Linked DNA regions of Homo sapiens. The protein of the gene in region 3 purifies or fractionates together with the protein of the main gene of each other region. This does not show direct contact. Each region holds a gene or a part of one and is shown on either strand. Other genes may lie near its edges.

The links.
Region 1: the proteins of LAMP3 (region 3) and DOP1B purify together in Homo sapiens (affinity purification with mass spectrometry; 2 studies listed by BioGRID and IntAct, with this or other methods). This does not show direct contact.
Region 2: the proteins of LAMP3 (region 3) and CAMK1D purify together in Homo sapiens (affinity purification with mass spectrometry; 2 studies listed by BioGRID and IntAct, with this or other methods). This does not show direct contact.
Region 4: the proteins of LAMP3 (region 3) and HSPA12A purify together in Homo sapiens (affinity purification with mass spectrometry; 2 studies listed by BioGRID and IntAct, with this or other methods). This does not show direct contact.
Region 5: the proteins of LAMP3 (region 3) and SEL1L3 purify together in Homo sapiens (affinity purification with mass spectrometry; 2 studies listed by BioGRID and IntAct, with this or other methods). This does not show direct contact.
Region 6: the proteins of LAMP3 (region 3) and PDS5A purify together in Homo sapiens (affinity purification with mass spectrometry; 2 studies listed by BioGRID and IntAct, with this or other methods). This does not show direct contact.
Region 7: the proteins of LAMP3 (region 3) and ARFGEF2 purify together in Homo sapiens (affinity purification with mass spectrometry; 2 studies listed by BioGRID and IntAct, with this or other methods). This does not show direct contact.

The regions. Positions count from the first base shown.
Region 1 is NC_000021.9:36,229,824-36,233,323, forward strand, and holds part of DOP1B (protein DOP1B), read left to right. Parts: intron 1-626; coding exon 627-1,311; intron 1,312-2,980; coding exon 2,981-3,252; intron 3,253-3,500.
Region 2 is NC_000010.11:12,348,081-12,352,346, reverse strand, and holds the start of CAMK1D (calcium/calmodulin-dependent protein kinase type 1D), read right to left. Parts: upstream 2,801-4,266; 5' UTR 2,529-2,800; coding exon 2,437-2,528; intron 1-2,436. UniProt on the Homo sapiens protein: Calcium/calmodulin-dependent protein kinase that operates in the calcium-triggered CaMKK-CaMK1 signaling cascade and, upon calcium influx, activates CREB-dependent gene transcription, regulates calcium-mediated granulocyte function and respiratory burst and promotes basal dendritic growth of hippocampal neurons.
Region 3 is NC_000003.12:183,131,735-183,135,234, forward strand, and holds part of LAMP3 (lysosome-associated membrane glycoprotein 3 precursor), read right to left. Parts: intron 1,223-3,500; coding exon of another isoform or gene 1,083-1,222; exon of another isoform or gene 1-1,082. UniProt on the Homo sapiens protein: Lysosomal membrane glycoprotein which plays a role in the unfolded protein response (UPR) that contributes to protein degradation and cell survival during proteasomal dysfunction.
Region 4 is NC_000010.11:116,701,067-116,704,566, forward strand, and holds part of HSPA12A (heat shock 70 kDa protein 12A), read right to left. Parts: intron 64-3,500; coding exon 1-63. UniProt on the Homo sapiens protein: Adapter protein for SORL1, but not SORT1. Delays SORL1 internalization and affects SORL1 subcellular localization.
Region 5 is NC_000004.12:25,817,989-25,821,488, reverse strand, and holds part of SEL1L3 (protein sel-1 homolog 3), read left to right. Parts: intron 1-1,548; coding exon 1,549-1,681; intron 1,682-3,210; coding exon 3,211-3,351; intron 3,352-3,500.
Region 6 is NC_000004.12:39,825,138-39,827,911, reverse strand, and holds part of PDS5A (sister chromatid cohesion protein PDS5 homolog A), read left to right. Parts: intron 1-2,423; coding exon 2,424-2,427; 3' UTR 2,428-2,774. UniProt on the Homo sapiens protein: Probable regulator of sister chromatid cohesion in mitosis which may stabilize cohesin complex association with chromatin. May couple sister chromatid cohesion during mitosis to DNA replication.
Region 7 is NC_000020.11:48,924,711-48,928,210, reverse strand, and holds part of ARFGEF2 (brefeldin A-inhibited guanine nucleotide-exchange protein 2), read right to left. Parts: intron 1-3,500. UniProt on the Homo sapiens protein: Promotes guanine-nucleotide exchange on ARF1 and ARF3 and to a lower extent on ARF5 and ARF6. Promotes the activation of ARF1/ARF5/ARF6 through replacement of GDP with GTP. Involved in the regulation of Golgi vesicular transport.

The DNA.
Region 1 (3,500 bases), on a different chromosome or scaffold from region 3:
GCTAATTTTTTGTATTTTTAGTAGAGATGGGGTTTCACCATGTTGGCCATGCTGGTCTTGAGCTCCTGACCTCAGGAGATCCACCCACCTCATCCTCCCAAAGTGCTGGGATTACAGGCATGAGCCACCACACCTGGCCTTATTTTATTTCTTCATACCTTTATTTTACCCTCAGCTCAGTTTCCTCATTCATATTTGTTAATTTGTCGGAAACAGTTCTCGCTCTGTTGTCCAGAGAATTGTGGCAGGTGATCCGCCCGCCTCAGCCTCCCTAAGTGCTGGGATTACAGGCTTGAGCCACCACGCCTGGCAGAAACAATTCTTAAACAACTTTTTTGAACTCTAAAGGGGTTATATATTTAGACAAAAACACAAGAAAAATAGGCCCAAAAGCCAGCCTCCCCAGAGAGCATGTGGGTGTACCAGCCTCCTCTTTGCTACCCACCGCTCTCCTTCTCCTGCTTTGGGTGCCTCCTAAATTTCATTATACACTTAACACAGGGATTCTCTAGTCTGGAGAGTGATGATTTTGAAAAACAGAATTGAAATACATTCATGATTTCAACTGATACTTAAATAGCTTGGTGTTAAGAGATGCACAATTCACATCTTTTTATTTTTTACAGAGTCCAGTAAAAGGTGAAAACGGCAAAATAATTTTGGAAACAAAGGCAGTGATTCCCGGTGACGAAGATGCTTCGTTTCCCCCTCTGAAGTCTGAGGACAGTGGGATCGGGCTCAGTGCCTCGTCACCGGAGCTCTCTGAGCACTTGAGGGTTCCTCGAGTTTCTCTGGAAAGGGACGACGTTTGGAAGAAGGGCGGGAGCATGCAGAGGACGTTTCTTTGCATCCAAGAGCTAATCGCCAACTTTGCCAGCAAGAACATTTTTGGAGTACAGCTGACAGCGTCAGGAGAAGAAAGCAAGTCCGAGGAGCCTGCAGGGAAGAGGGACAGGGATGGGACGCAGAGCCTGGCAGCCAATGATTCCAGCAGGAAGAACTCTTGGGAGCCCAAGCCCATCACTGTGCCTCAGTTCAAGCAGATGCTGTCAGACTTGTTCACAGCACGAGGGTCTCCATTCAAGACAAAAAGTTCAGAGTCACCATCGTCTTCGCCCAGCAGCCCTGCCAGGAAAAACGGGGGAGAATGGGATGTTGAGAAGGTGGTCATTGACCTGGGGGGTTCCAGGGAGGAACGCAGGGAGGCCTTTGCCGCCGCCTGCCACCTGCTGCTGGATTGTGCCACTTTCCCTGTCTACCTGTCCGAGGAAGAGACCGAGCAGCTCTGTGCAACGCTCTTCCAGCTGCCAGGTGAGAGGCAGCCCTGCCGAAGTCCCTCTTTGGGAATCATACGATGAGGCGATTGACGTGGGTGGAATATCCCCTATCCACAATGCTAGGGACCAAATGTATTTTGGATTTCGGACTTTTTTCAGATTTTTGGAATATTTGCCTTACACTTACCGATTCAGCATTCCTAATCCAGAAATCCAAAATCCAAGAGCTCCAGTGACTGTTTCCTTCGAGCATCATGTCAGTGCTAATAAGGTTTCAGGTTTTGGATTTGGAATTTTCAGATTAGAGATTCTCAACCTATATTTAAAGACTAGCTCAAATTGTGTAAGCCAAGAAGGTGCTATTGGCCTCATTTGTTCCCTTCCTCATTTGTAATTAGTACATTTTTGACTTGTGTCTCACCACATGGCAAAGTGGTAAGGGTGGGGCCTATGTTTTTAAACCCTGGGTGTCCAGCACAGCCCATCAGAAGACCTAGAACATGAGTGGCATTCAGTGATAGTAAATAGACTATTTCATGATGCCTGTTGATAAAGTTTTTTTTGTGTTGGGTTTTTTTGTTTTTTTTTTTTTTTTGAGACAGGGTCTGGCTCTGTTGCCCAGGCTGGAGTGTGGTGACACCAACTCAGCTCACTGCAACCTCCGCCTCCTGGGTTCAAGTGATTCTTCTGCCTCAGCTTCCCCAGTAGCTGGGACTACAGGCACGTGCCACTACGCCCAGCTAATTTTTTTTTTTTTTTTTTTTGAGACAGCGTCTTGCTCTGTCGCCAGGCTGGAGTGCAGTGGCGCGATCTTGGCTCACTACAGCCTCCGCCTCCCGGGTTCAAGTGATTCTCCTACCTCAGCCTCCCAAGTATCTGGGGTTACAGGCACACGCCACCACACCCAGCTAATTTTTGTATTTTTAGTAGAGACAGGGTTTCACCATGTTGGCCAGGATGGTCTCAATCTTTTGACCTCGCGATCCACCCGCCTAGGCCTCCCAAAGTGCTGGGGTTACAGGCGTGAGCCACTGCACCTGGCCCCCTAATTTTCATATTTTTAGTAGAGATGGGGTTTCACCATGTTGGCCAGGCTGGTCTCAAACTCCTGGCCTCATATGATCTGCCCGCCTTGGCCTCCCAAAGTGCTGGGATTACAGGCATGAGCCACCGTGCCTGGCCAATATTTTATATATTGGTTTGCTAGGGCTCCTCTAACAAAGTACCATAAACTGAGAAATTTGTCTCATAGTTCTGGAAGCCAGAAGTCCAAGATCAAGGTGTCAGCAGAGCCATACTCCTCCTCTGAGACCCTGGATGGAATACTTTTTGGCCTCTTCAGCTTCTGGTGCTGGCCGGCAACCCTTGGAGGGCTCCTCACCTTGCAGCTGCATCAGTCCCGTCTCTGCCTTTGTCTTCACAGGGTGTCCTCTGTATGTCCTGTCTTCCCTTGACATGTCCCTCTTACAAGGACACCAGTCATATTGGATTAGGGCCCACCCTAACAACCTCATCTTAATTTGATTACCTCTGTAAGGACCTTATTTCCAAATAAGTCTCACCAGCGGGAGGTTAGCGCACTGCTGTCCAGGTGGATTTCTCAGGTAACTTCCCAGATCTAGGGTGCTGTAGAATCTGCAGACTGGGGACCCATTCTCACGTGGTTCTGCTTGTTTCTGCCTCTCCGGCTGGCTTCCTTTCAGGAGCCGGTGATTCCAGTTTTCCATCTTGGCTGAAGTCCCTCATGACTATTTGCTGCTGTGTGACTGACTGCTACCTCCAGAACGTGGCCATTTCCACTCTGCTGGAAGTGATAAACCATTCCCAGTCCCTGGCGCTTGTCATTGAAGACAAGATGAAACGCTATAAGAGCTCTGGACACAACCCTTTTTTTGGCAAGCTGCAGATGGTGACGGTTCCTCCCATTGCTCCAGGGATATTGAAAGTCATTGCAGAGAAAACAGATTTCTATCAGGTATTTCCCACTGGGAACACTCTTCTTATGGCCTCCTTCTCCCCCTGAGCAAAACTCAGAACCGTATTGCTGGGGATGGGGGCAGTGGCCCACTTCTCTGAGAGTGATATTCTATAGGGCACTGGGCAGAGGCAGTAGCCTTTGGTCTTCCTCTCCCAGCATGTAACTTTCACCCTCCAGGAAAGCTACAGTGAGAGCAACTGGGGCCCCAGTATTCTGGGCCTGCCAGGACTGAGTGGAACCCCTGC
Region 2 (4,266 bases), on a different chromosome or scaffold from region 3:
TGAGCCACCACGCCCAGCCCATTATGTTTTCTTTACATTAATATTAAAGTTCGCGTTCCAAATACTAAAGTTAAGTCAAATTATTGACTAAGCATTGGCCATTACAGGATCTACAAAGTGTGTCAACCCTGTATGGACAATCAAAAGTTGCTCTGCCTATCTGTGAATACCAGCTCCGCCACTTAATAGTTAGCTAAGGTTTGGTAGCTCACATAATTATCTCTGCTGCCTTAGTTTTCTCATCTGCAAATTGGGTGTAATGGTAAATACCTACCTCATAAGGTTACTCTGAGATTTAAATGAGTTAATACACATAAGGCACGTAGAATAATACCTGATCCTGGGTATACATTTCAGAATACCACCTATGATTACCATGATTATTATGTGGAGTAAAAACATCTTGATCATCACACTGTTTCTATCATTCTTCTAGGTCCAATGCCAGTGCTACAGTGGGAAGCTCCTTTGCAAAGAATTCCATCCCAGGCAGAAGGCAATGCTTTAGGACCCTAAGAGAGACCCATTCCCAAAGCTCACAGGGAACATGGCTGGAGTCCAAGAGGCTGTTCTGCCAGAGAAGCGCTCTGGCACCAGAGGGCAAATCCCCATTTTTCCCCAAGGTGGAAACCACCCACAGTCATCTCCAAACACCATGCTCCAGCAGGAGCCACAGCTTGGAGCCTCAGCAGCCCCGCCACTGCAGAGGTGCAGCTGCACGAGTCAGTCAGGGGACAGGGCATCAGTCACCCGGAGGCTACAGGCAGGAAGCCAGTGTGGGGGGCTCGGGTGGGAACAAGCCACGGACAGGAAAGCATTCACACAGGGTGGGTCCCCATGCTCTCCCATCTCCTCATTGGCGGCCACAGTGCGGGTCCTGGATGACAAGCAAAGGCCATGCTTTCTTGTCTCTCAGTAACTTGAGCATCTCAGAATCACAACCCCAAACCCGAATAAACCTCAGTGGCAATTTTCAAAAGTTTTGACCCAAACTAACCCCTTACCTGGCTGCACTAAGAGGCAACCCCAAACCCCTATTTATTAAAAAGCTACATCTTTTTCTGTTTTCATTCCAACAAAGATAGCAAATAGGTGCCCTCCCTGAAAGGCAACAACCACAGCAGGGAGACCCCACTCTAGTCCTCAGCGTGCGCCTTCCCGGGAATCAGAAGCAGGACTGGGAAAGCCACCCTCACAACTTCTCTCCGGGGGACCCCCTGCAGATCTGCGTGGGGGTGAGGGGAAATGACTGAACAGCAGCAGACGCCGAGCCTGGAGGTGAAGACAAGCTGGGTAATGTGGTGCTGGAAAAAAGAAACCAAGCACAAAAACAAGCACACGGAAAAAAAGGAGGAAGGAAAGAAAGGGCACCCAACAACGCACTGATTTATCCCATGAAATAGCTCCCCTTTCTCTTCCCAGCCTAATCAACACCTCCATGAACCCCTGCAAAATGGGCATTTCTGACTGCACACCTGTGCGTGAATCCACACTGACAGATACTGATGCAGAGCAAATACTGATTGTGTGAGGGAAGGAAATAACTTGAACTTCAGACTCATTCGGCAGGTCCTGATTCTCTTTCACTATCAGCCTCCCCACCTATTCTGAGCCGCTCCGAAACAAAACAAACAAGACCCAACTCCTGGGCAGAAAGGGAACAGCAGCTGAGCTGAGCAGCACATGCTTGGAGCGTTCCTGCCATCGACTTCGGATTATTTCTGCTTTCTTGAGACACAGCCATCAGCATGGGACTCGATGCAGCCCGGAGAGAGCACCGCCCGCGCAGCGACGCGCACAGACCCTCCCTTGGAGACGCGCTCCCCGGCGCGTGCGGCCGAGCCCGCGTGAAATGCACAGACCCTCCGGTGAGGCTCTGCCCACGTGTGACCCTGAGCACTGCGAAGCCCTTCCCTTCCATCCTCGCGTGGCCACCCAAAGTCTTGCCTACACCTCGTACGTGCAGATGCCAATTCCATAGAAATACATGATGTAAGGACAGAAATGGGAACGACTGGAGGCTGATCTTCTCGTGACCACGTCTCGCCAACGCGGTGCGCCCATGCACACGGCGAGTAAACGCACACAGCCGGTAAACAGCCATCCCCACCATGCTCAGCCCACAGTCACGCGTGGGGAGAAGGCAGCGGAGAGGGCGGCGGTGGCAGGAGAAGTGGGAAGTCGCGCGCCCGCGTGGGCTGCTCCCTGACAGCCCGGCGCTGCCCCCTCCCCCTCCCGGGAACGGCGCCCACCCGGGGGTCGCAGGCCCACGCGTCGGGCGCGCTCGGGGGGGCTCCGCAGCGCCGAGAACGGGACAATGAGGACGCGGTGACAGGCTGGGTTTCTGCCGCGGTAGTGGCGGCGGCGGCAGCTGGAGCTGCCCGTGCAGCCCCTGCCGCGGCCACCTCCACCCTCGCCTCCCCGGTCCCCACTTACGTTCCGAGGGTCTCTTTGAACTCGAAGATCTTCTTGATGTCTTCAGCTTGCTTTTTCCAGGAGGAGCTGCTCTCGCCGTTCTCCCGGGCCATGGCCGACGAGCGCGGCGCGGAGGAGCGGCCGGGGGCGCGCTGGGGAGGGGGCGCCGGGGGCGCGGCGCGGGCGCAGAGGCGGCGGGGATGCCGGGCGGCTCGGGCTGCGGCGCAGCTTCCTCCTCTGCAGTTTCCTCTTTCGCTCTCGCCGCCGCCGCCGCGGCCGCGGTCCCTCCCTGGCTCTTATTTCTGCTGTTCTCGGGCACAGACTTCCTGCCGCCGCCGCGCGCCGGCTCCTTTGCCGCCGCCTGCCAGCCTCACTTTCTGCTACTTTCTTGCCTCCCTCCCGCTCCCTCCCTGCCGCCCGCCGCGCTCCCCCCCACCTCGCGCCTCCTCCCCCTCCTCCCCCTCCTCCCCCTCCCGCGGGCTCCCCGCCCTCTCCGTGCGCCCCGGCCGCTCCCCGCCTCCAGCGCGCCGCCTTCGGGGATGTCCCGCTCCCCTCCCAAGAGCGCCGGGCCACGGCCGTCGTGCCCCCTGGAGCCCCGGCGAGGGCGGGTACGGGCCCCCGGCAGGTGCGGGGCGCACGCGGGAGAGCCCCAGCCCCTCCGGGAGCTGGAAACGGAGCCCAGTCTGGGGGCGCCGGGGCTTTCCCGTCTCCGGCGGGAGGGGGCGCCTCTGCGTGGCTCGGAAGCGCCGGGCGGGCGGGGGTGCGCGGCGGCCGGATGCGGGGCGCCGAGGGCGGGGCGCCTTCCCGCGCTGTGGCCTGTGGCCCGGGGGACCCGAGGGGCAAGGCGTGGGGTGGGGGGGGTGGGGGCCGGTTGTTATGGCGACGGGCGGCGGCGGCGGCTGGGATGGAGGCGGAGGCGGGCGGGAGCTCATTCGCATTGCACCAAATCGGTTTCACGTCAGTTTCGGGACAGACCCGCGAGGAGCAAGCCGGGGAGCCTCTGGGCGGGTACGCGCAGGACGCGCCAGCAGCTGCCTCGTGGTCCCTTTGCGAGCAAAACTCCCGGGGGTGTTTGGCAGCCGCGCGGGCGCCCTGGTGCTGGGCTGGAGCGGCCGGCGGGCCTGGCCGGCCTGGTTGCCCTGGCTCACGCTTGGCCCCTTCTGGCATCTCCCTGTCTCCTCCCAGAGACTCAGTGGAAAGAAGTGATCGTCTGCCCCGCAGTCCCCTCGAAGGAGGAGCCCACCCGCGGCTGGCTTAGTAGGGTGTCCGGGTTGCGGGGCAGGCACCTGCTTTCCTATGGACTGCCAAAACTAACCCAGAGAATTCCCTCCGGACTCCCATCTCCCAGCTGTACTTTGGCCTGCCCGCCCCACTCCTGGTGTCCACCTGTCAGAGGGCAGCCCACGTGCTCCAGTTCCCTGGTCCCCAACCTGCAGGGGCGACCTCTTGATCGGAAAATTTTAGATTTCTTGGTATCAACACTTCGCCTCCCTCAGGGCCTCTCCTCGTAGTTGGGTAAACAGCTCTGTCTCTTGACTGGGGACACCTGTCCCATTTTCCCAGGACTGTTCCAATTTCACTGTAAAAGGAAAAAAAAAATCTGCTCCCTGAATAGGAAACTTCATCCAGCACCTTGTGCCTAGTTCTGACTCTGGCTGAAGTGGAGGCAGCCCAGCTGCTCTCCCTCAGCCCCTACTCTGACCCTAAAGAGGTCAGACGACACCCTGGCATCCCCATTCCTGGGACCTCCATGCTAGTTTCCATCTTTCAAAGACGGTTAGCTTAAGGTTTTCCAAACTGAGAAGAGCAAAGAGGGGATTTACTTGCCGGTTAGATGTAGAATAAATCCAC
Region 3 (3,500 bases):
TAATGAATGGCACCTCTGGAAAATTTGGAAAAACAAGAAAACTTCCAGTCAGTAGAATCAATTAAGAACATACCTCTCCTTTTTCTCTGAATGAAAAACCCCCATCAATGTAATAGGAAACCATGAATAACATCCTAAGCCATATTTTAATAGAATTTTTCCCTCAGATATCAACCGTCCCCCATCAGGAATGTACTGCTTTTGGTGAATGTTTGCGTAAAAGGGAAGTGAGTGATCCTCCAGGCAGGTCTACCTCTTCCTGCTTGCCATTCCATATTGTCTCCCTGCTCTGTCTCCCTCCTGTCCTGCAATGGTCCAAATGGACACATTTACAAGAATAAAATAACATCAAAGAAAAGCCGACAAACCCGGAAAAAAGTAGCTAAGAAGGCAGACAACACATGAAATTGAAGCAACTGAAGGGCTAACATTTATTGAGCCCCTCCTTTTTTGCCATGATCTTTGATATGTGCTTTAAATTAAAAAAGTGAAATAGGCAGTTTCCTAATTTTTTAAACTGATAATACATTACAATAGAGTAGGATATGTTTTTTTAAAATAATAGCATATTAAGATCATCTATAATTTAAGTAAACAAAATTTGGGTAAAATCCAGGAGTTTAAAATCATTTTGTAATCAACTTTGAAATGCATTGGTTTTTTTAAAGTAATGTTTTTAAAAACTGAAAATCAGGACTCTTGAAAATGTATAAGAAAAATCAGTCAATTTGTAAACGTCTTCCCCACAATTCTCCCTCCGGGTTTTCGCTTTCTCCCTTCTCACAAGCACCCCACTCATGTCTCTGCCTATTGCCCCTAATTCCGGAAGCCAGCACTGGTATATTCAGGTATGGCAGAGGGCATCAAGCACACCTGGCATGGCCTCCCCAAAGCAACAGGAGGAAGTAGGGGAGGTGCTGTTTCCCAGCACTGCGGTAGCCCTTTGGTGGAAAGTTAGGTTTCCTAATCAGCTCAGGAGGGTGCAACAGGCAACGAGACAGGTCAATCCTTTCACTTCAGGCTGAATATGATGCTGGAATTCCCAAGACCTTAACTTTGCACATTTTGAAGAAAGTGGGGCTTTACATGCGTTCATATCCTCTACTGGGCCTCTTTCTGGCCACCAGACATGCGGTTAGCAAAATGACAAGCAGTCCTGTGATACTCAGGCCCATGGCCACAGGGATTTCTCTCCTGTTTCTGTCACTGAAGCATTCATCCGCTGTAATTGAAGTCAGAGTAACAAGTGTTACAGACTGGCCACAAATGCTGGGAAGTGGCACTGCCACATCTGCCTCAGCTTTGGAGAAAAGAAGACAGAGGGGAAGATGGAGCTGTTGGGGCTCAGACAACAGTGGGTGAAAACGAGAGGGAAAGGGTCAATACAGTGGATCTGACACGTGTAGCACTGGTAATTAGTTAGGGAGCTTATTAAATTGCAGATGCCCAGACACATGCCCAAGAAATGATAATTCAGTGGGTCTGAGCTGAGGCCAGGGGAATTCTGATGCTGCTTCCAGGCAGATCCAACTTTGAGAAAATGCTAGTTTGGCCTAGAGGGTTGTGATCAGAGTTATGTCTTGACTCTCAAACTAGAGTAATTCCCGGAGCCATATTCTCCAACTCTAGTAATAGTTTGAGACAGAGTCTCACTGTGTCACCCAGGCCAGAATGCAGTGACACAATCTCGGCTCACTGCAACCTCCGCCTCCTGATTTCAAGTGATTTTTATCCCTCAGCCTCCCGAGTAGCTGGGATTACAGGCATGTACCACCATGCCGGGCTAGTTTTTTGTATGTTTAGTAGAGATGGGGTTTTGCTATGTTGGCCAGGCTGGTCTCATAGTCCTGGCCTCAAGTGATCCACCTGCCTTGGCCTCCCAAAGTGCTGGGATTACAGGAGTCAGCCAACACGCCCAGTCCTAACTCTGTGTTTCTTACAGGGGCTGCTCAGATAGCTTGGGGCTCCTAAATCAGCATAATAAACAGCAAAAGAAAAGGACAGCAAAAACCCTAAAACTCAATAAACAAAACACAATGTTTGCAGGCTCCAGGATTTTAGGGAGGAGGAGATTTTAGGAGTCAGGAGTCTACTGTTTGGGATGACCATTATCTTTTACAAGGCTCAGCTTTGACACTTGCTGGATTCCTCTCCAGTTCTTCGATCCCCTGTTTAAAAATCGCCTATCACTCAAGACTTCTTTAGTCCACCCTCTCATCACCAATGCTGTCAGTCACAACTTCCTCTGGGCTCCCATAACCCTTTGCACATGTGTCTTTTAAACACCATATAGTATGGTAACTTGCTCCTCTTTTCCCCCTTCTCTTACTCTCTAGTAGAAAATCCTATTTACAGAATGACATACCTCTTCACATTTGAGCATCTTTAGTGAAATTTGAAGTGCAAAGACTAAGAAGATGGCGTTGAGTTGATACGGTGACAGTGGGAGAACAAGGGGAACATTTTGGAAGTGGAATTGTTAGGGCTTTGTGACTATTTGTATGAGAGGGTGCTGGAGGGAGAGGAGTTAAGGAGAACTCTGAAGTCTGTTGTTTGGAAAACTATCCAGTTAATGATGGTTTTAAGAAAAAAAAAAATGTAAAGACAAGCGAGCTTTTCTATGCATCCCTGTGAACACTGGCGTGCACTGCTGAAACGTTTTATTTCCTACCTCTGCCACTAAGAAGTTTCCCAGACCTGATCACTTCCTGCTTCATAGAGGTTCTGAAGGGGAAGAAGAGCAAGTGTGTACCTTTTTTTAAGATCACACGATTACAGAAGTTTTTCAAACCTTCATAATGATTGTAAAAGAAAGAAATAGTTTTCCAACACTAGCATTTTTGAGAGTGGATGACAAATGGGGCCAACCTCTACTGGCAAATTCTCATATGACTGTGGGACTCCGACAAAGCCTACAGAAACCAGGGGACCCAAGGCAAGCAATGGCCAGTCCTTCCTCTGCCAAATGCTTCCCACTGAGTACATGAGGAGAAGTTTTCTGCTACACACATCTGCAATTTCATGATGGAACCCAAAGCAAAATCAGATTCATATTGTAGACATTTAAAATACGGCTAAACTTCTAGCTAAATCTATTTTTGATAACTGGGAAGTACTCATCACATTTTTTAGTTATTATGAGAGGGATGTTTTAGAAATTGAAGTACATGACCCTCCTGGTCATATGTAGAAATCCTCGTAACACTGTTTTCCTGGAAGGGAGAAGAGGGCTTTTTCTGGCATATGACTCTCCTGGTCATAGGCAGAAATCCTTATAACAATGTGTTCCTGGAAGGGAGAAGAGGGCTTTTCTGGAAAGTCACCCTGGTCTGCTCTTGGCCCTTGCCCAGGGACCTGTTTTCCTCCAGGGCAGTCATCAGGCAAGCTCTGCCTGTGATGGTCAGAACTCAAGGCAGAAGTTAGAGGGAAACTAAAACTGACTATGAGGAAACACTGTTGGGTGTGACAGCTTATAACTGGAGACGAGGGGCTCCAACAGC
Region 4 (3,500 bases), on a different chromosome or scaffold from region 3:
GTCAGCAAGATGGTGGTTGGAGTCTTCTGATTGGACACACCAGGGTCACCTCCCTCCCATCGCCTGCCACCAAGGGAAGCAGAAGTTATGGGGCCTTCTTTCAAAATCCCAATTCAGGCAGCACAGATTTGAACACCTACTGTATGCATGAGTGTCAGTAATGTGGGTGCCCAGAGGCACTCTGCTTCAGCTGGATGAGCAGCTACTAGAGACACAACTTCAGTTAAAAAGGAGATGAACTGGGCAAGTGCAAAGTTCTTGGTCAATAACAAGCTCTGCCTTAGTCTTTCATTCCATGTTTACTGAGCATCTACTCTAAGCATCTACATGTTTGCCAGGTGCTGGCATGAAACTTTTATGTCTGTGTCTTCAAATAATTCACAATCTGCTAGGCAATGTATTTTTTATTTGCAAGCACTCAATAGCAGATATACTGCTAGCTTGAATCCTGTCTGAAACAAGGTAGGTATAGACAAATGCATAATTACCTGCCTTATGAGATGCAAATGAGATGCCCAAGGTGCCAGCTGGTAGGGCAGAGGAAAGAATGCAGGATTCGGGGGAGAACTGAAGAAGAGACAGACAACTGGATCTCAAAGGAGGGAAGGATACTCCAGGCTGCTCAGAGGTGGGCCAGCCGGGGCATTCGTGGAGAATGTGAAGTGACTGCGTTGGTTGGAGAGAGTATGTGAGTGGGAAGAGTGACTGTGAAAATGGGAAGGGTGAGAAACACGATTGGGAAAGCAGCTGGAATCAGGCTGAGGAGAACCCTGGGGACTTAGACATTTACTCTGTGAATAATGGGAAGCCACTAAAGGTCTTAGAGCAGGGGTATGACAGAATCAGAGCTGCTGTTCATAAGGGCAAACTGGGCTAAATGGAGGGAAAGGGAAGCCAGGAGCCTCAGACCTATCCTGGAGCAGAGGTGAAAGAACCATAGAAACAGATCTCAGCACTCTGGGGGGCCAAGGTGGGAGGATTGCAGTGAGCTATGATCGCATCACTGCACTCCAGCCTGGGCAACACAGCAAGACCCTATCTCTAAAAAGAAATGACAGAGAGAGAGAGAGAGAGAGAGAGGCTGCAGTGAGAGCAAGGGAAGGGGGAAGGGGAAGACAGGAAACTCAATGTATTCGCTCACCTTTGGGGCCACTGCAGAGAGGCCAGGGCCACCAAGAGGCCAAGCTGTTCCCTGCCCAACCAGGTCCTGGCTCCTGGCCTGCCGCTGGCCATGTGACCCCATGCACAGCCCGTGCGCCCTCAGGTGGGGACGCAGTGCAGGAGGGAAAATGAGCCACTTTCCTCACCCACTGGAGAGGTGGCCACGCTCCCAGCTGATCCCGGACCTGCTCCCGACCCCATGACATTAAGCATCAGTAGGACCATCTCAGTCCAGATGGAGCTCCGGCCTCCACTGATATTTGCTGCTCAAATGGGTCTGGAATCATCCCTGGTCAATTTCCTTGTCAAGCTCCATCAGGATGCTGCTCCTACCCCAGCAGCCAAAGTCCCCGAGGTGACCGCACTGAGACACAGGGATGGCCCCGATGCCAGGCAGCTGCTCCACACACTGCCCTTCACAAATGGAATTGTCATTAACAGTGACATTATCAGTAGAGAATGACCCCATGAGCTTTTTCCCTTCAAATTTTTATTCCTTCATTCCCACTTAGTACAAAAAAAAGTTAACTTTCTCACTTATAACTTGTCATATTAGCATCATTATGCTAATATGTTCTGATTGAAATAAAATTCAGGTAGAACCAACCAACCTCCCTCCAAAATGTCGACCATTACTAAGGTATCTCCTCTAGAGGCCCTGAACTATGGTGGTGCTTCATAAGTACCCCTCCCCAAGCAAGTTCAAAGTTATTTCCACTCCTTCTTTTCTGTTTTCACTGCATGACTATTCTGTGGAAATAACATTTCTTAGAACAACTACATAGAAGCTGATAAACATTGATTCTAGCCTTTAATGGCATATTCTTTTCCACTGGGATTTTTCATCTTGGGGGTCAGTGGTGGCAGCACAGACCCTCACAGCATCTGTCTGGCTAAATGGAAAGAGATTCCTGGTGGCAACTGAACACCAAGGGCGATGCTGTCAACAGAGTTGGCTATAGAACCGGCTTTTCATCATTTCCTGATGACATGACACCCAGGAGTGTCTGTACCCTCTTAGGACAAGAGCTTCAGGCTGAGCCACATCTGGTTTTCAAGAGGAAAGGTGAGACTTAAACCAAGATTGGGGTGGGAGTCACTTTTATTATGACTTGTGCTTTACACAACCCTTTATAAAAATTCCTAAAATACAAACATTAGCAGGGTGTGGTGGTATGCACCTGTAGTCTCAGCCACTTGGGAGGCTAAGGCAGGAGGATCACTTCAGCCCAGGAGTTTGAGGCTGCAGAGAGCCATGATCACACCACTGCATTCCAGCCTGGGCAAAGGAACAAGAGCCTGTCTCTTAAAAAAAAAAAAATAACAACAACAACAAAACTAAAAAATATTAATCTAGGAGCAATACTAAATTCCACAATTACTCAGTTGAAGAAACTGCAAAGCCAATTACAATGTATCTTCAGAGTCATCCCTTGGAATTGAAAATTGGGATGATAAATTCTGGGCTTCCAAAGATTCGAGGAGTCATACCCTGCAAGAAGATCATGGATCAAGACTGGGATCCCATGGATGGGTGGCACCCGGGGCCTGCAGGGTGCTGGGTGTGCGGGGAAGGGAAGGGGGCATCCCAGCACAGAGTGCATCCCAGGAGGCCCAGGGCAACTTTGCCTATGGGGCCACTTGGCTGAGATTCCCCTCATGCTGCCTTCTCTCTGGCAGGTGCTTTTTGCCTCTGGCTACCAACACCCCAGCACTTCTCTTCACTTGAAAGGGCCAGCACCTGGAGAGGATGTGGAGAAATAGGAACACTTTTACACTGTTGGTGGGACTGTAAACTCGTTCAACCATTGTGGAAGTCAGTGTGGCGATTCCTCAGGGATCTAGAACTAGAAATGCCATTTGACCCAGCCATCCCATTACTGGGTATACCCAAAGGATTATAAATCATGCTGCTGTAAAGACACATGCACACGTATGTTTATAGCGGCACTATTCACAATAGCAAAGACTTGGAACCAATGTAAATGTCCAACAACGGTAGACTAGATTAAGAAAATGTGGCACATATACACCATGGAATACTATGCAGCCATAAAAAATGATGAGTTCATGTCCTTTGTAGGGACATGGATGAAACTGGAAACCATCATTCTCAGCAAACTATCGCAAGGACAAAAAACCAAACACCGCATGTTCTCACTCATAGGTGGGAATTGAACAATGAGAACACATGGACACAGGAAGGGGAACATCACACACCAGGGACTGTTGTGGGGTGGGGGGAGTGGGGAGGGATAGCATTAGGAGATATACCTAATGCTAAATGACGAGTTAATGGGTGCAGCACACCAACATGGCACATGTATACATATGTAACA
Region 5 (3,500 bases), on a different chromosome or scaffold from region 3:
GCCTTCCACATCCATAACCCGCCCCCGAATGGAACTGTCCAACGCTTCCAGCCAACACAGCTGGACTGGTCGGGGGAGAGGGCTATTTCCCTATGAGGGAGCCTTCAGGGCACTTGTTTTCTGGGCTGCTTTAAGGAGATCAAGAACCCCACCTGATACCTGAAAGAGAAACATTCTGTCATTCCCTTCACCCTGTGGGGTTTATTCTGAGAAAAACAGGGGTCACTAGGCAAAGTCATAATCAGGAAAAATGGGGAGTCCTGCTGCCCATGGGTGATATCTTACAGCCTCTGTGAGACACTTTTGTGAAAAGGGAAAAAAATGAAATAGTCATTTGTGCAACAAATGCTTATTGAGAACCTACTGTATGCCAGGCTTTGAACTAGGTGTTGAGACAAGCAAGATGGATAGGTTTAAAATTGTTTTGAAGGTTGTCCACAATAAGAAATCTGCTTAATATCAGCCAAGCGTGGTGGCTCACACCTGTAATCCCAGCGCTTTGGGAGGCCGAGGCAGGCGGATCACTTGAAGTCAGGAGTTTGAGACCAGCCAACAAGGTGAAACCCCGTGTCTACTAAAAATACAAAAATTAGCTGGACGTGCTCACTTGAACCCAGGAGGCAGAGGTTGCAGTGAGCCAAGATTGTGCGACTGCACTGCAGCCTGGGTGACAAGAGCAGGACTGTCTCAAATAAAAAAAATTAAAAAAAGAAAGAAAGAAATGTGTTTAATATCATGAACAGTACATATACATATGCATACATATATTCACACATAAAATGGAAACAAAATTATTCTAAGAATACATACCCTTGCTATATTCAGTGCACGCTGATATTTTGTGTTCTACTTTATAGAAACAAAAAACACCACCAAAACTCTGGAGGTTCCCACCCACTGAAATAACTGTGTGACCCTCTAATGGGTCCCAGCCTCTATTTTGAAGCACACTGAGCTAAGTCCCTTGTTCCTGAGGCGCTCCCTTTCGGGATCTTAAACAGGGAATTCATGAAAGAATACAGTACATGCTTTAATTCAGATGTGTTTGGGAGTGCTGAGGCAGGAACGGATACATCGGCCCGTAAGTGAGATGGGGTGAGCCACTAGGGGGGCCTGTCCTGAAGCCATGGCCTTGCAGCCAGCTCTTGGAGGTTGCAGAAGAGGGGAGGAGGGCTCTCTTTGATGCAGCAGGCACGTCGTGGGTACCCTTGCATCTTTTCGTGGGAATTGAAGGGGGAGGTGAGTGTGATTTTCTAGGGACAGAGTGCAGCCAGAGAAAAGAAGAGGGAAGAGTCCCAGTCTCTGGGAAATTCTGACATTTAAGAAGCTGGACACAAAGAGAAGCTGAAGGGAAGCCATCAGAGCTGGCATGTCCTTGAATTAGTACCAATGACCTTGCTTTGCAAATCCAGAGTGGATGATATGTGTACAAACGAGCCACCTGGAGATGTCAATGGGAGAACAAAGTCAACCCAAACACATCCTCCTAGAGGTGGATGGATATTTGATGACAATTGTTGTTCATTTGACTTTCTTGCCTTCTTGTAGATTTTTAATCCCCTCCTTGAGAAGCAACTTGCTGAACAAATCAAGTTATATTATGAAAGGTGTGCTGAGGTTCAAGAAATAGTATCTGTGTATGCATCTGCAGCAAAGCACGGGGGCGAGAGACAAGAAGCATGTAAGTGTTGAGCTTCAGGGGAGCTGTTTTAAGCTCTGTGCATTTACATAAACACATGTTTGGCTTCTCCATAACAGGATTAAAATTAAACATATATGACTTGGCTCAGATACCAGATGGGACAAGTGTGACCTTGAGCCCTCCACTGGTGGATACAGGTGAAATTGTACATTCCACCTGGATTCTACCAAGACCAATGACAGCCAAGAAGAACCAAAACATCTTATAGCTCCAACCATAAAAATCTAGTTTACAAGTACAAATGAAAGCGAGTGTTTTGTGCCTTCGCATGGCGTTATTCCCAACCATAAGGCCAGCCTAAGAAAATAAAAATGAACTGGAAAATAAATTAATCATTAGAAATGTTTCCCCATCAGTGCACTTTTGTTTTGGGCCATTGATATCTGAATATTAGCTTTCAGAAATGTTGAATGGTGACTTTGTTGTTTGGAGCTTGGTTTTATTTTTTAAATCCTTGAAATTGACTCATTCTCGAAGACATCGGTAATTTTTAACAGAAGGAATGAATTTCAAATAGACTGCTTTCATGCATGCTCATATTTGCACAGACATCCTTTTACTCACACAGGGTGTTTATCAGTTACAAAACTTGGTCCTGTCTGGTTCGCCAGTGTTCCAGCTTGGATCTAGCACTTACACATTTCTCTGTGCTGTGGATCTTGCTGTTTGATATGGTGGCACTAGAGTTACTCACATATGTTCCTTCTGGAAGAGAAATTCCTGTGGGACCTTTGCCATCAGCAAAAGCGAATTGAGTATTTCAGTCCTGCCCATATGTCTCTATCTCCAGAGCGGAACTTCTCATTCCAGGTCGTGGAGGGAGGGATGCATCTCAAACATGCCCCAGTCCAATAGGGTTCACATGAAATGGTCCCAGGTAGTGATTACAGATGGTGACAGGTGAGTGTGGAAAGATAGTGCTTCTGCAATTCAATTTAAGAATAGGCTATACTGGTCCCCAGCTGCTGCTCTCACTGCTGAATCATCCGGAAAATATGATGCTGTCAACAGGAGGGGGAAGATATATAGGAATAGTAATAACCCAAAGAGGAAAGAAACTGACTTTGGTAACTTATGTACTCTCAGGAGACATACCCTGAGATAGAAGGCCAGGCATGCACACCCATCTGTTTGGTGGCATTAGGAAGATTTTCCTATCATCTTGAACTGCTTTGCCTCCCTGAGGGTCTTTGTGCTTTGCTCCTCAACTCACATGCCAAAAAATGGCCTAGATATTGGCCTCCTGGGGACCGGTCAGAGGCCAGCTGCTCATTCTGTAGAATTATTCAACAGCCATCAGCAACTTTGGCACATTTCTCATGGACTTGGCTCTGAATTTGTGACCTGGAGGCAAAAGCATCATAGCCAATTTCAAATCCCAAAAGGACCAAAACCAACATCCAGTAATGGCAAGTCTTTCTAGTTCCTGTTAGGAAGAAGGGCTTTAGGGAGGTGAGTCTTATCTTCTGCTAAAGGGTGTGATATCTTCTGCTCCCTCTTCTGTGTAGGCCACCTCCACAACTCCTACCTGGACCTCCAGCGCAGGTATGGGAGACCCTCGATGTGCAGAGCCTTCCCCTGGGAGAAGGAGCTGAAAGACAAACACCCCAGCTTGTTCCAGGCATTGCTGGAGATGGATCTGCTGACCGGTAATTGAGTCTTTGCCTCGGCTTTAGGCGCTGGTTAGAAAGGCTCCTTGTTTTTCTCTGTTTCACTCACCCTCTTTGGTGATTTATGCCTTAAAGTTATTTTTAACCCTAGTGTTTTAGTTTAATTTCAGATTTAAATTCTGCCTTTG
Region 6 (2,774 bases), on a different chromosome or scaffold from region 3:
GATTGTTGAGTATGTTTTGCTTACACTTAAGGCCAAATTCTTCCTTGAAGATGAGCTTGTCAATAAACATCAATGGAAAAATAACCCCAAATTTGTGACTTCTGGGGAATTTGAATTTAAAGAGAATATCTGTAGGATAACAGACTGTGGGTTTCTAGTCGTTGGATTAACATGTTTTGTTTAGCATGCTTAGTGTGGGAGTGTTCAAGGATCTTAGAATTTGTTTTTCTTAAAGCAAAGAATTGACTGAGTTTTTGTGCTCATTTGTATAATGAGAAGGTTTCCTCCCATCATGTGGGTTCGTATCTCAAAATTAACCCCTAAGTATATATCCTCAAATGTGTATCCTCATGTGTTAAACAGCTATATATTAGTTCAATATGAATTTTTTTTAGTAACAAGTGAATTTTTCTCAAAATAACATGAAATTTTTCAGAAGCCAAGTGCTTGCAGTGATGGCAGTTCATCTTGGTACATAGAATCAAGTCCAGGAGCTCTTCCAGTGACCTGGGTCTTTCAGAAGTCTGTGAGAGCAGCCCAAGAAATACAGAGGACTCAGGGCTAGGAAAGGGAAGCTTCCTGAAGGTGTAGCAGGCAGCTTGTAAATAATTCTTTGGCCGGGTCCAGTGGTTCATGCCTGTAATCTCAGCACTTTGGAGGCCAAAGCAGGCTGATCACTAGGTCAGGAGTTCAAGACCAGCCTGGCCAACATAGTGAAACCCCATCTCTACTAAAAATACAAAAATTAGCTGCGCGTGGGGGCGCAACCTATAGTCCCAGCTACTCAAGAGGCCGAGGCAGGAGAATCGCTTGAACCTGGGAGGTGGAGGTTGTGGTGAGCCGAGATCATGCCAAGCACTCCAGCCTGGGCAACAGAGCAAGACTCTGCCTCAAAAAAAAAAAAATTCTTTAATAGCATATTGTTAAAATTGCTTCAAATAGTATAACAAATTAATAGTCTCTGTATGAATTGTAATAATCACTTAGCTCTTTTAGCATTGTTACCTTTATAAAATATGTATGTAGTAAAGGAGTTTGGGAATATATCTTTCTTTCTCTTTTAGGTGTAAAATTGTGGAAAAGGAGACAGTCTTACTACTGATCAGGCTGATTAAAAATGTAGAATGGGCCGGGCGTGGTGGTTCATGCCTGTAATCCCAGCACTTTGGGAGGCCGAGGCAGGCAGACCACGAGGTCTAGAGTTCAAGACCATCCTGACCAACATGGTGAAACACCGTCTCTACTAAAAATACAAAAAATGAGCTGGGCATGGTGGCACGCACCTGTAGTCCCAGCTACTCAGGAGGCTGAGACAGGAGTATCGCTTGAACCCGGGAGGTGGAGCTTGCAGTGAGCCCAGATCACACCACTGCACTCCAGCCTGGCAACAGAGCGAGACTCCATCTCAAATAAATAAATAAATAAATAAATAAATAAAAATGTGGAATGAATTAGGCAAGTTGGGCTGCTAATGCCTTGCCACTGAATTGAACAGCCACAGACAAACCAGAATGCACTTCTCAGGGCAAAAGAACAAATATTGATGAAGTCAATCCCAACATGCTCATTCCTTTTCCCTAATCTCATCTATTAGATGAGTTCCTCCTTCTCCCAAAGAGGAGTAGGTGAGAGGAGGTGAGAAAGAGGCCATGTCCCACTCTCCTGTGCTTCCAGGGATCAGAATTTCCCTCCCTATTAGGGAAATGCGTTTAAAAAAAAAAAAAAAACACGCCAGTTTGGTTGGGATGTTTTTAGTATGCTAAAACGTTTATGTTTACCCAGCTCATGAGTCAGAAGTTATTTTGCTGCTTATAAATTCATTTTGCCATAGTATGATAAATAGCTTTTAATGTTGTAAGCAAATAGGGCATTGGATAGCAGCACTAAGTCATTGAAAACAAAAACTTCTTTATTGGTGTTTGGTTTTTATATAGTTTAGGGAAAGGCTCTTTAAACCAAGTTTCAGGTGAAAAAATGAAAAAACTTTTTAAGGATTTTAGATAACATGCCAAGCACAGTGACTCATGCCTGTAATCCCAGTAGTGAATCTGAGAAGCGCAGGCTTCCCAGATCGCTTGAGCTCAGGAGTTGAAGACCAGCCTGGGCAACATAATGAGATCCCGTCTGTACAAATAATTTAAAAATTAGCCAGCCATGGTGGTGTGCGCCTATAGTTCTAGCTATTTGGGAGGCTCAGGCTGGACGCTGAGCCTGGAGGACCACTTGAACCCAGGAGTTGGGGCTGAGTGAGCCATGATCGTGCCACTGTACTTCAGCCTGAGTGACAGAGTGAGATCCTGATGCTTAAGTTTAAAAAAAAAAAAAAAGATTTTAGATAACAACTATGGAAATGAAATCATTTTCGTTTGGTTTATATCTTCTCCACATCTTTTCTAACTTTGCGTTCTATTCTTAACCCTAAGGTAAAAATGCATTTGCAAAGGGAGAAAATGAAGGCCAAACAGAAGCAGGCTCCAGCTTCTGCAAAAACTTGGATTCACAAATGTCCCTGAACAGAAAATGAAGCTCACTTCAGAACACACACTCTCTGCCTTGAAAACTAAAGAGACTATTACTTCCTTTTCACATGACCACAAGTCCTCTGATGGAAATGTACAGCAGAAACTCTTGAGAGAGAGGCTAAAAGCAACTCTGTTCTCCCCCTTCCCCTAGACTTTTCTTACGAAAAGTCAATAATTAAGCAAATTGCTTAACACTTGGTTCCAGTTCCTGCCTATCTGGAGTTTAAATGCGTAATACACCATTAATTTCCA
Region 7 (3,500 bases), on a different chromosome or scaffold from region 3:
AAAAAAAAAAAAAAAAAAGATTGCAACACCAATGCCTCTGAATTTCAGCAGGTCATCTGTTAGGTGCCAGGTACTGTGCCAGTTACTTACTGCACTAGTCCATTTAACCTTTGCAATAATCCTGTGACAAAGGTATTACTATCTTTATCACCTTGGGAAACTGCGGCCCAAAGAGGGATCACTGGACTATCAATAAGCAAATCAAACTTTCAAAGTCTCAATCAACTCTCTGCCAATCCTACATATAAATGCTTTTCAATAATCAAGAACAATCCAGTTTTTTGATGCTGCTTCCAGACAGATAACCTCCTCCTGAAGAATCCACAGTGGTTTTCAACAAAAAGTAATCTTCCAGGGTCCTGAGTCCTGTTATTTCTCAAAATTTTTATGATACATAGCACTTATAAACGAAATGTCTCATCAAAACACTAGAATTTGCTAAAATTAAAGGCTTTATTCTGCATTTCAATTTAAAGTCTTGTTATGTCAATTTATTTATTTATTTTTTAATTTTTTTTTTTTTGAGACAGAGTCTCGCTCTGTTGCCAAGGCTGGAGTGCAGTGGCGCCATCTTGGCTCACTGCAACCTCCACCTCCCGGGTTCAAGCAATTCTCCTGCCTCAGCCTCCCAAGTAGCTGGGATTACGGGTGTGCGCCACCACGCCCAGCTAATTTTTGTATTTTAGTACAGATGGGGTTTCGCCATTTTGGCCAGGCTAGTCTTGAACCCCTGGCCTCAACTGAGCCGCCCGCCTCGACCTCCCAAAGTACTGAGATTACAGGCGTGAGCCACCATGCCCCGCCACGTTACATCAATTTAGAGATGTTTTTTATATTTTTCAAGTTTCACAGTAATCCTCATGATGAGAATGGTTTTTCTGAACACATCAAAATTAGAATAAAAGGATCATATGGAAGAAAAAGCAATTTATGTATCATATGGACACACAGATGTCCATATGATAAATGCCCATTTGTATGTCTTACACACATTCATATACAACTAAGATTTAGGAATATACTTCCTTAACTGGATCCCTTAACAATATTTAAAGTTAAAATCTTTTCTACCTTTAAATAAACAAACAACTCCCAGGAGCCACTCCTTCTTCCTCTTTACAACACAACCAAACTTTGGGAGAGCTGACTATGCTCACCATCTGTTTCCTCACCTCCCACGCCTCAACCCATGCCAGTCTGGCTTTCACCTCCATCACAGCATCAAAAAAGCTCAAGCTAAGGTCACCAATGACCCATCCACATCCTAAATCTCGTATATTAAACAGAGGAGCAAATCTAAGAATGGATGTTATGATCTATGTGAAGCTACATCATGTGCTGCAGCTACGTTTCCCCACCCAGCTGTGTGGATGTGGATGGGCAAGTTGCTCTCTTCCTTAGCCTTGGTCTCCCATTGCCTGCTGTACCCAAAGAAATGAATCACAATCCAGAATTAATAACAGGTCACAACTCCAGAATTAATAAGAGGGAGTTTACTGCTGATGAAGAGATATCATCAATTAGAAAAACTGATTAACTCCAGCCCAGACAACAGAAAAACCCCGTCTCTACTAAAAACAGAAAAATTAGCCAGGTGGGTGGTACGCCCCTGTAGTCCTAGCTACTTGGGAGGCTGAAATGGGAGGATCACCTGAGCCAGGGATGGAGAGGTTGCAGTGACCTGAGATCGCACCCCACCACTGCACTCCAGCCTGGGCCACAGAGCAAGATCCTGTCTCAAAAAAAAAAAAGAAAAACTGAATAACTCAAATGAAACTTATGTGTAACCAGCTCTTTACTCTCATTTCCTTCTTTCCATTAGCCCCTAATTAAAGTAAACCTAGTATATATGTAGTAAAAACCTGAAGAAAAGAGCTGTGATCTTTTTGACTCAAGGCTTTCAAACATATCTCAAAATTCAGCTATAGAAAATACAGTCTCCTGAAACTCCACTGCGGTATACTGATTGTTTTAAAAACTCTACTGAGTATTTCAAACATAACAACTTTCATATGGAGAAGCAAGAAAACATGGTAGTAATAGTTAAGATCTTGGACTATGGAGCCAGATTGCCTGTGTTTATACCCTGGTTCCATCACTTACTGAGTTACCCTGGCCAACTTAACTTCTCTGGGCCTCAGTGGGAATGATGATAATAGTGAGAACTAAATTGCATGAAAAGCCCACTTTACTGTGCCTGGAACTCAGAAATGCTTAGTACATAGGAGATATAATACAACATGTGATCTTTAAAAGTCATTCAATTTCATATGAAAATACGTATGTTTACTATTCTTTTTAAATTTTCTTGATAATGGCTGAGAATAATGACAACTAGTAATTATAGAGCACCTAGCCATTACTTAGCACTTTTGTGTGAGGGTCTCACCCTGCTGTCTCGGCTGGAGTGCAATGGCATGATCTCAACTCACTGCAACCTCCATTTCCTAGGTTCAAGTCATCCTCCCACCTCAGCCTCCCAAGTAGCCGGGACTACAGGCATGCACTACCACACCCAGCTAATTTTTATATATTTTTTTAGAGATGGGGTTTTGCCATGTTGCACAGGCTGGTCTCAAACTCCTGGGCTCATGCAATCTGCCCACCTTGGCCTCCTAAAGCGCTGGAATTACAGGCATGAACCACAGTGCCCAGCCATAGATAAATTTTTCCATATCGAATTTTAAATAGATTATCCTATTAAGCCTCCAAACTTCATATAGTTTAAGAGCAGAAACATAACTTAAAGATACATGATGGGAGAAGATGAGTCTTAAATAAGACAATTATAAAAGGGAGGTTTAAGAATGTAATTATATTCTCCAACAGAGGGCTGAAAGGTTGAAGATTATTAATATATATCAAAGTTTCATAACAAGGTAAAGAGCAACAGTATCCTTGGGGCGATGAATACTCTCACAGGCTGTCTTGATTTCTCCAGATAAAGGTTGGAAGGGCACTATCCCCTACTTGGGCAGTCCCTATTTATGCTTTTGGTGTATAGTGCGGACGAATCATTGAGATTACTCCAAATCTGCTCCATCATGATTATCACAATTTTTACAAAGGACAACCCCTGTCTTCATTGAGTTTAGGAAGTTAATACTCCAACACAGCCTTTCAATCACGTAATTACATTCTTATTTACTGCATCTACAAACCAAATAGAGCAGTAAGTCATTCCTGAACGAGGAACTAAGGTTAAGAACATCAAACCAGAGTAATTACAGCTGCTGTGGTTTGTCACAGCTTAAAATAATAATAATAAAAAAGTAATAGCAAGCATTTACTGAGCACCTACTACATGCCAAGTTTTTTGCACATGTCAATTAACTTAATCTTTACAATAATCCTATAAGGAAGTAACTTGTCCAAGATCACAAACGTAGCAAGTGGAAGGCAGGAGGTTTGAACACAGAAGTCTAGGGTCCCAAAGAATACACTCCTAGCTAACATCTACACTATACAGTCCCTGCAGCCCTGATCCTCTCCCCTAATAT